2 linked regions of the Homo sapiens genome follow. The protein of the gene in region 1 purifies or fractionates together with the protein of each later gene. This does not show direct contact. Each region holds a gene or a part of one and is shown in the gene's direction. Other genes may lie near its edges.

The links.
Region 2: the proteins of TMEM182 (region 1) and OCLN purify together in Homo sapiens (affinity purification with mass spectrometry; one large-scale study listed by BioGRID and IntAct). This does not show direct contact.

The regions. Positions count from the first base shown.
Region 1 is NC_000002.12:102,759,730-102,765,460, forward strand, and holds the start of TMEM182 (transmembrane protein 182 isoform a precursor), read left to right. Parts: upstream 1-2,301; 5' UTR 2,302-2,488; coding exon 2,489-2,620; intron 2,621-2,857; coding exon 2,858-2,957; intron 2,958-4,599; coding exon 4,600-4,698; intron 4,699-5,731. UniProt on the Homo sapiens protein: Negatively regulates myogenesis and skeletal muscle regeneration via its association with ITGB1. Modulates ITGB1 activation by decreasing ITGB1-LAMB1 interaction and inhibiting ITGB1-mediated intracellular signaling during myogenesis.
Region 2 is NC_000005.10:69,502,790-69,507,072, forward strand, and holds part of OCLN (occludin), read left to right. Parts: intron 1-1,387; 5' UTR 1,388-1,455; coding exon 1,456-1,505; intron 1,506-4,283. UniProt on the Homo sapiens protein: May play a role in the formation and regulation of the tight junction (TJ) paracellular permeability barrier.

The DNA.
Region 1 (5,731 bases):
AATTTGTGGACAGGGCTCCATTCCTTCCTGAAGGCTCAAGGGGAGAATCTGTTTTCTTTCCTCTTCCTACTTCTAGATGCACTCTATATTCCTTGGCTTGTGGTCCCCTTCCTCTGTCTTGAAACCAGCAACTGTCTGACCCTTTTGCTGTGGTCACCTTTCTCTCTCTGGCCACTCCGCTAGGACAGGTTCCCGGGTTTTCATGTAAGGTTTCCTGTAATAAGATTGGGACCACTTGTGTAATCCAGGATATTGCCATGTAAAATAACATATTCATAGATTAGGATTAGGGCATGAACATTGTTGTGAGGCCATTATTACTCTTAGCCAGCATCCAGGTAAGAACGGCTAGAATATACCCAGAATATTTTACTATGTCTCACTTCAATCAAGCACTTGAAAATTGTAGGAAAAAACCAGAACGGAGAGGAGGAGGTCTGGAGTTATACCAATCTCAAGGCGTTTAAAGGAAGAGAGTGTTTGGCTTAGAAAAATATAGCTTAGACCTCTATATAGGGGTAGGGAAGGAGTGTGATTGATGAGGCGTGGGTGATGGCTATCTTTAAAATATCAGAAGGTTCTGTCACAGACAGAGGATTGAAACTTGTGCTTCACAATCTCAAAGGACAGAATAGAATAAATATCTGGAAACTCCTAGGATGCAGCTTTTGGCAGAAAATCAGGCAGAGCTATTATGGCTGTTACTGATGTCCTTAAATGCCACAGGCTGGAAATGTCATAGCTTGATGGTGTGGGAAGTCTTATAAAAAATATTTAAGCATTAGATGAGGGATTAGCTCAGATGACCCCTTAACTTAAATCTAATCCTTAATGATTGTGTAACATTCTATATGGCTTAGAATTCTATTCATGTTTTTTTTTGTTTGTTTGTTTTTTGTTTTTTTTGAGAGTTTTGCTCTTGTTGCCCAGGCTGGAGTGCAATGGCACGATCTCGGCTCACTGCAACCTCAACCTCCCGGGTTCAAGCGTTTCTTCTGTCTCAGCCTCCTGAGTAGCTGGGATTACAGGGGCCCGCCACCATGCCCAGCTAATTTTTTGTATTTTTAGTAGACATGGGGTTTCACCATGTTGGCTAGGCTCCTGGTCTCCACCCGCCTCGGCCTCCCAAAGTGCTGGGATTACAGGTGTGAGCCACCGCGCCTGGCCTTATTCATAGCTTTTGAATACCTCTGATTGCATATAGCTACATCCTAACAGGGCCCTTCATCTTTATTGAGAATCTTTTTGTTCTCACAGAATCCATTGTAAGGATCTATCCCATGCCACAAAAAAGAAGGCGTGAAGAAAGCTGGTAGAGTTGAGATGCCCCCTTGGAAGATTAAGTATTCCAGATTATTGTTGAGAATATAAAAACAATAACCAAAGGAACGGTGCAAGATTTTAAATGCACACAAATACTTAGAAAAATACTCTCCTCTGGCATATCAGACAGAAAAACAAAACAAACAAATAAGCTGTAAAGAGTTAAGCCTTGAAGAAAGTGTAGATTCATTGCTATTAGGTGGTCTGTGTGAGTATTAAGTATGATTCATATTTTGAGGAAGTGAGATATTTTAAAATGAAGGAAAAAGAAGTCGATCAGGTTATTTCATCTTAATTCAGGAAATAATACATTTTTGAGACTTTTTTCATCAGTCCACTTTGGGGATGATTATTTGGAATAACTTGTATAAGACTCATGAGGCTGCTGCAGAAAGTGTTGTTTTTATGTCACTAGTGTATGCTGCATAAAAGCTCTTCTTTATACTTTCAACAATTATGTTACCATGAACATTCTTGACCTTTTAAGTATACCTCTGAATGTTTAGATTATAAACGTGAACTGTACTGTGTTATGTTAGACTATTTGACCAAAAACGTATTTTCTACCACAAAAAAAGTCCAAAAGGAATTAAGTTAATTACAACTTCAATTGTGTTCAAGATCGGTCTTTGTGGTTCTTTATATCTGTGATTTATATATCTTCAAAGAGAGTCTTAAGTGTCTTTGGGATTGTAATGGGCATTCTAGACTAAGAGGAGCTTGTTCAGACACAAGATTTGGGGCCAATGCTTTCAATGACTTCATAACCATTCCATCTTCTTTCTACTTCTGTGGATTACCCAACAGCAATAATGATAATCTGAGCCAGTTCCTGATACTTCTCTCTATAGTCAAGAGAAGGTCAGCTATTTTTTGATCCCCATGGGAGAAAGACAGCTCCTCAATCACTATCTTAAAATAGCCAGCAATTCTCAGCTGCTGGGCTGGAGTTCCTCCAGGGGCGAGCAAAGGGAATATGAATCTGCCGGTGGGGCGTGAGCGAGAAGCCACCAAAACATGAGCTAGGACAGCCTTCTCAAGAAGATTCTGCCAACTCAAAAATATTATTCTTTTTTTTTTTTTTTTGCTGTTGTTTCTGAGAAACTAGGTGTCTTACCATTTTAAAATTTCATATTTTATTTAAAAGGAAACCAGTGAATTGAAAATGAGACTAAATATCGCTATCTTCTTTGGAGCTCTCTTTGGTGCTTTGGGGGTGTTACTCTTTTTGGTGGCTTTTGGATCGGATTATTGGCTTCTTGCAACTGAAGTGGGGAGATGTTCAGGTGAAAAGAATGTGAGTCTCTTCTTCAAAATAGTGATGCACATGGTAGTTATGAAGATACCCTTATGTATGCTCTTGAAATCAGAGAATAGTAGTGGAGTGTCTATTTCTTCATGGAAGAGATATGTAGAAAGCTACTGAGCTTCATTATTTGGGATAAAATACATGTCCTTAAAAATTTACTGGCTGTAATGATTTTGATTATATTTCTTGTATTGATGGCAAGTTACTTCATTTTGTTCTGTGCAGATAGAGAACGTCACTTTTCACCATGAAGGGTTCTTCTGGAGGTGTTGGTTTAATGGGATTGTGGAAGAGAATGACTCCAATATTTGGAAGTTCTGGTACAGTAAGTACAATTTAGCTTTATTTTCCCTCTTGTCTGTAAAATAAAAATGAACAGTTTCTTACATAGTATATGTCACTTCTAGCGGACTGGATTGTGAGTTACAAAATCTCAATTAGATGTCTTTAAAAGGTTCATCATGTAGAGATTCCTTTTCAGTAAGTAGACATGGCTATAGGAATAATTATTTTATCTTTTAGCATAAAACAGGAGTCTGAATATTTATGGCAAAACTGAATTATCCATTGTTTCACTGCTCCTGTTTAGAATACACTAACTCTAACAAACAGGACAGGTATTGTCTATAGCATTTTTTCAAGTGTGTGAATACTATGTTGCAAATAAATAAGATTTTTTTGCTATCAGCCCTTGAAATCTCAAATGTAAAAATCCATAAATAGAGATGTATTATTTTATATTCATAACTTCAAAGTTAACAGTATATTTTTTTTAAAAAAATCATGGAACTTAATTACCAGCCATGGCAGATGAAAGCTTATATTATTTGAGCTTTAACCAAGTTTGTTGGCACTATCAAGAAGTGCCTTGCTTTTGATGTTTGTGTTCTCATTGAAACTTTAAAGTTCTTTTTTAAGGTAGCATAACTTTTAAAAACTATAATGCATTTGTTCAACTCTATTCTTTATATTGAATTAATCTTTGAAAATCAATTTATTGAAAATAGCTAGCGCTTATTTCATTGTATTCAACAATGAAAGGGCTGTTTATTAGCCTAAAGCTTATTGAGAATTGAAATTATTAGTCTTCTTATCAAAAATCAAAGTATGGTATTTACATAATAGTCAGGATTATGGAATATTTAATAAAAATAGGAGGTCCCTGAAGACTTAAGCAAGCTGGTGATAAGTTGGCATATATAAGGAACAAAGTAGTGATGAAGCAGCGTTTTGAGGCAAGTACCTGATAGACTATCTTACAGTGGATTTGGGGGCAGGAGAATAAGCATACAACTTGCCAGTGGAAATGGTTTAGACTTTAGTAAAGGGAAGTAAGTCAGACTGTGCAAGAGGAAGATTTTGCCAAAGACTTGGAGAAAGAAAGAATATTTCAATATTTCAGTCCACCTTAAAGTGTACATATAAAAATTTTAAGTTCTCAGACAACATAAAAGTGCCTTCTTGTGATGTTTTCAAATATTAAAAATTTATTTGAATTATTGTATAACTTATCATTTGCATTCTTCCCTAAAATAAAATGGATATAGAAGAATTTTTTTATTAATTTGAACTAATCAAGGTTAAACTTAAGTTTATTAGATTTTTAAAACAATTATTTTTTATTCCCTACTGTGTGCTAGACACTGTTGGGTACTGGAGAGTATGTGAAAAAAGATGAAATGTGGTACCTTAAATCGTAAGGTGATATAAAGGGCATTTGCATTTATTCCATTGAATTATGTCATGTAGCTAGATGTTCTGGATGAATCCACCTTCGTCTCATGTGCATCTTGATATGAGTTTCCTAGAAGGCCTTCCTCCTCACAACAATTCGCTGAATTTGCTGATGGAACCAGTAGTTTTGTTTTGCTTGTGTAACCCTTGTGCTCTGTATTTCTGTTCCATTAAGGATGAGTCATGACTGAGCTTTTCAATAACAAGTGCCATTGTTTTGCTGTTCTTCCTAGCCAATCAGCCACCGTCCAAGAACTGCACACATGCTTACCTGTCTCCGTACCCCTTCATGAGAGGCGAGCACAACTCGACCTCCTATGACTCTGCAGTTAGTAAGTACCCTCTGTCCTCAGCCTACTTCTAAAAGGGTCTTATCTTTCTGAAGGATGCCCAGATCAAAATTGTTGTGAGCAATTAAAAAAATAATTTAAGACCTGTAATTTCAATATTTTTGATATCTGTTAGATTAAAAAATGTTATTTTTAATGTGCCATTTATAATTTTAAAGAACATAACTTTGATCTAAAAGTAAAGTCATTGTAATTTACTAGCTGCCTATAAAAGTATTTTTAAATGTGTTTTCCCATATGAAGATAGTAATATTTATTAAGAAGAACCGCTTCTTAAGGTTTTAACAGACCTAAAACGAGTCCTACAGTTGAGAATATTGTAATATACATCATACTTCTAAAACTTTATGTCATCATTACACATGAGAATATCACAGATAAATATATAATATGTATACAATAAATATATATGATATAAATATGTAATTATGCTACTATATTTATACAAAATGACTGAACTCTGTGTGTGTAATATCCCATAGGAGACAGACAGACAGATATCATTAACTTAAAATCACATTAAGAACATGAAATTTGTAATAACTTGCTAAGGGTTGATACAGACTATCAATGTCATATATAGAACAAAAAAGTGTTTTTCAAAAATAGTAGCTATTATATTTAATGTTCTCAATAAATTAATATTAGTCAGGGTTCTCCAGAAAAAAGAGAAACAATAGAACACATAAATATATATTATATACACACATACATGTATATACATATGCATGTGCACATACACATACACACATAGAGAGTGAGAGAGAGTGATTGTAAGGCCTGGTGAGTCTGAAATCTACAGGGCAATTGGCAGGCTGGAGATTCAGGTCAGAGCTGATGTTGCAATCTCCAGTCTGAAGGCTGGACACTCCAGTAGAATTTTTCTTCTGCAATCTGGAAGCTGACTTTCTTTTTCCTCAGGACACCTGTTTTTTCTCTTTAAATCTTCAACTGATTGGATGAGGCCCGCTCATAGTATGGGGTAGGGGGTAATCTGCTCTACTCAAAGTCAAGG
Region 2 (4,283 bases), on another chromosome or scaffold:
TGGAGAGCTCTCAGTGCCCATGGATCCACCTACGGACGTAGGCAGATGACCTCCATCTTCACTTCCTCATGGATGCTAACACCAGATGTGCACTCCCCACAAAAACTGGTGTTTCCCAAATGGAACTCATTGTTTCAAACTAGCATAGTGAAAAGCACATGAAATCATCTGGGTTCAAGTTACATCTGAGTGACTCACTGACATCCATATAACCTTGAGCATATTACTTCACATCTCTTTCTGACCCTCTTTGCATCTGTAAAGTGACTAATCAACCATGGAGGGTCGTTTTGAGGATGAAAGGAGGTTTTATGTAAAGCACCCAGCACGTCGGTAGGTGTCTGATGAATGTTAGTTTCCTTCCTATCTTCTGTCTCCTAAGCTAGTCCTTCATTGTTGCCTCACACCTAGGTTTGCTGCTGCTGACTGTAGGTGCTCCTTTTTACTGTTGACTTTGTCTTTCAAATCTGGTTCAAATCAAACTTACACCTCCCTTGCCGAGAATCACGAACTGGCTCCCTGTTTCCTACCTGAAGGAAGTGAGACACTCCCACTAGACTTTCAAAGCCCTCCCTTTTCTTACTCATCCTCCATCCACTATATTCTTACTGTAACCTTATTTTAAAAGATGACACCATTCCACCATGCTCCCACTTCACTGTTCCATAAGCTAGCCACCTGTGTTATCAGCACCACACCAGCCTGGAAGAGCCAGGACCCCAGCGCTGGCTGTCATACGTCACTCCCACAGGCTCTCCTGGTCTAGTGTAGGCACTTAATAAATGCTTGTTGAGTGAAATTTCTCCTCAGATGTTTAGGAACTTGTGCTGAAGAATTTTAGGACAAAATTTCAGAAAATGACCAATTAATACCATGCATATTGTTTTTTCTCCCCTTGTATAAAAATTGTGCTCAGTTTCGAAGACTTGGAAAAGGAGATAAGGGAAAAATATCTACAATTCCACCATTTATAGATGCATTTTATTATCATTTTTAATGATAAAGGCATTTAACCCATTAGATGGTTACTTTGCATTGAGGAGCTAGTATGTGCTAGTGCGGCTATATGTGCACTTTCTTATACATTCTCATTTAATATGAACTTTCAAAAGTAATATGAAATTATATATATTTCAAATTTTTGTACAAAAAATACAGGAATTAGCCAGGCATGGTGGTGCAGGTCTGTAGTCCTAGCTACTTGGGAGGCTGAGGTAGGAGGAGTACTTGAGCCTGGTAGATCAAGGCTGCAGTGAGCTGTGATTGGACCACTGCACTCCAGCCTGGGTGACAGGGTGAGACCCTGTCTCGGGGTGGGGGTGGGATGAAGAAAAGAAAGAAACTGTGAGCTTAGTAGTAATGCCATAACTCTACTTTTGTTGCTTAGATTGGTTTATCTTGGAAGCTAAAGGGCATTGCTCATCCTGAAGATCAGCTGACCATTGACAATCAGCCATGTCATCCAGGCCTCTTGAAAGTCCACCTCCTTACAGGCCTGATGAATTGTAAGTAAATAATTCTTTAGTTATTCTCTTTTAAAAAGTCTATCACATGTAAACAATAAGTATGGTTGAAACTTTAAGTGTTTGCTTTTAAAAATAAAACGATATGTGTACTTGTAAATTTAAATTGTATCAAAGGGTCTGCACTGAAAACTGAATTTCTCTCAACTTTCAGAATGACAGTTTGTCTCTGCTAGGACAACTGCTGTCACCTATTCCTAATGTTTGTTTCAAGAGATTGCCAAGGTTTATATTTGTATGTTCCTTTTTGTTTTGTACAAATGATAATGAAGCTTCCATTTAAATGCCTCATTTAGGTGGCCATTGGGAACATATTGTCAGTTTTTAAAAATAACAGCTTTAGGCCGGGTGCGGTGGCTCACGCCTGTAATCCCAGCACCTTGGGAGGCCGAGGCTGGCGGATCACAAGGTCAAGAGATCGAGACCATCCTGGCCAACATGGTGAACTCCCGTCTCTACTAAAAATACAAAAATTAGCTGGCTGTGGTGGCGCGCACCTCTAATCCCAGCTACTTGCCTGTAATCCCAGCTACTTGGGAGGCTGAGGCAGGAGATTCACTTGAACCCAGGAGGTGGAGGTTGCAGTGAGCCGAGATCACGCCACTGCACTCCAGCCTAGAGACAGAGCGAGACTCCGTCTGAAAAAAAGAAAAAAGGCCAGGCCTGGTGGCTCATGCCTGTAATCCCAGCACTTTGGGAGGCCGAGGCGGGTGGATCACCTGAGGTCGGGAGTTTAAGACCATCCTGACCAACGTGGAGAAACCCCCATCTCTACTGAAAATACAAAATTAGCCGGGCATGGTGATGCATGCCTATAATTGCAGCTATTTGGGAGGCTGAGACAGGAGAATCGCTTGAACCCAGGAGGCGGAGGTTGAGGTGAGCTGAGATGGCGCCATTGCACTCTAGACTGGGTGACAAGAGCAAAACTCCGTCTCAAAAAATAAATAAATAAATAAAAATAACAGCTTTATTGAGATATAATTAACATACTTTACAATTTACCCATTTAGAATGGATAGTTTAATGGTTTTTAGTATATTCACAGAGTTGTAGAACCATCACCACAATTAATTTTAGAACATTTCATTACTCTCCAAAGAAACCTATCCATTGGCAGTCACCTCCCAGTTCCATCAGCCCTAAGCAACTATTGGTCTACTTTCTGTCTCTATAGATTTGTCTATTCTGCATATTTTGTATAAATGGAGAAATCACGTAATATGTGGCCTTTTGTAACTGGCTTCTTTCACTTAGCATAATACTTTCCATACTGTCAGTTTTAAGAGTGATTCCTGCCATGATCTAAAACAAGCAGTGTTGAGGGGTTTTGGGCTCCTTGGTCATGTGAAGACTTATCAGTGAATTTTTGAATTCCAAATTTGCTATCAAACATTGATAGGGATTTCCTCCTCTAAGTAGTTTGCAGCTTTAACCATGATAAGTGTAGTGGAGTGTGATATAGGCAAAAACAAACAGTTTCTCCTGCTGTTCTGTCACAACACATCTGTGACCTCTGATCACCAGAATTTGTGGGGATATTTCCCCACCAGCAACCAAGTAATCAGTTCTACAGTGGACAATAGCTGTGTGTCCTCTAATTATCAGTTCAATTCTGACACTGTCAGAGATAGCATCAGATCACAGGTTCAGGGCTCATTCCCACAAGACTGCCCCCACTTCACGTAGCAGCCACAAGCTCAGGTTGTGGCCTGTGTTTCTGACCCACCTACAGTAAATCAGGATTCCCACAGTTGTCTCCTTGGGTGCAATTAATTTGCTAAAGTGGCTTGCAGAACTCAGGGAAACAGTACTTACCATTACTGGTTTATTATAAAGGGTATTACAAAAGCCAGGTGTGGTGGTGCATGCCTGTTATCCCAGCTACTCAGAAGGCTGAGGCAGGAGGATTGCTTGAGCCCAGGAGTTTGAGGCCAGCCTGGGCAACATAGGGAAACCCTGTCTTTTAAGAATGAATGAATGAATGAACAAACAAATGATATTACAATGGATGCCAACAAACACCAGATGAAGAGGTGGACAGGGCGAGGTATGTGGGAAGCAGCCCTCCCTGGTTGTGCCACCCTCCAGGAACTTGCACATGTTCAGCTGTCCAGAAGTTCTGTGAATTCGGTCCTTTTGGGTTTTTATGGAAGCTTTATGACATAGGCATGATTGACTAAATCATTGGCCATTGGTGAGCAGTTTAAGCTTCAGCCCCTCTTTCCTGTCCAGAGAGGGTTGGGGCTGAAAAGTTCCAACCCTCTAATCCTAGCTCCCATCCTGAAGCTTCCTAGGGCTGCCAGGAACCTATCATCTCATTAGCATATAAGGGATACTTATCACTTTGGAGAGTCCAAAGATTTTAGGAGTTGTATGCCAGAAAATGGAGATGAAGACTAAATACATATTTTACAATATCACGTGAAGGTTGTGTTCCAGTTCTTTAACCTCCTTACTAGTGCCTAAAACATGGTGGGGACACAAGTTGTTTATGACAATACAGTTTTTAAAACATACTAGAGAATATAGTAATTGAGTAATGCACCACTAATCTGACACTTATTTTGTGTTGCTTTTGTAAATAATGGTGAACTGCAACATACATAAAGAAAAGGACACAGAACATATGTAGGAGATCATGAGGAAAGACCAAGCAAACATACATACTCATCACCCAGGTCAAGAAACAGAACACTTCAAAGTCCTTCCCTGTGTCCTCTCCTTTTCTCTGGAGACCACTGTCCTGACGTATGATCA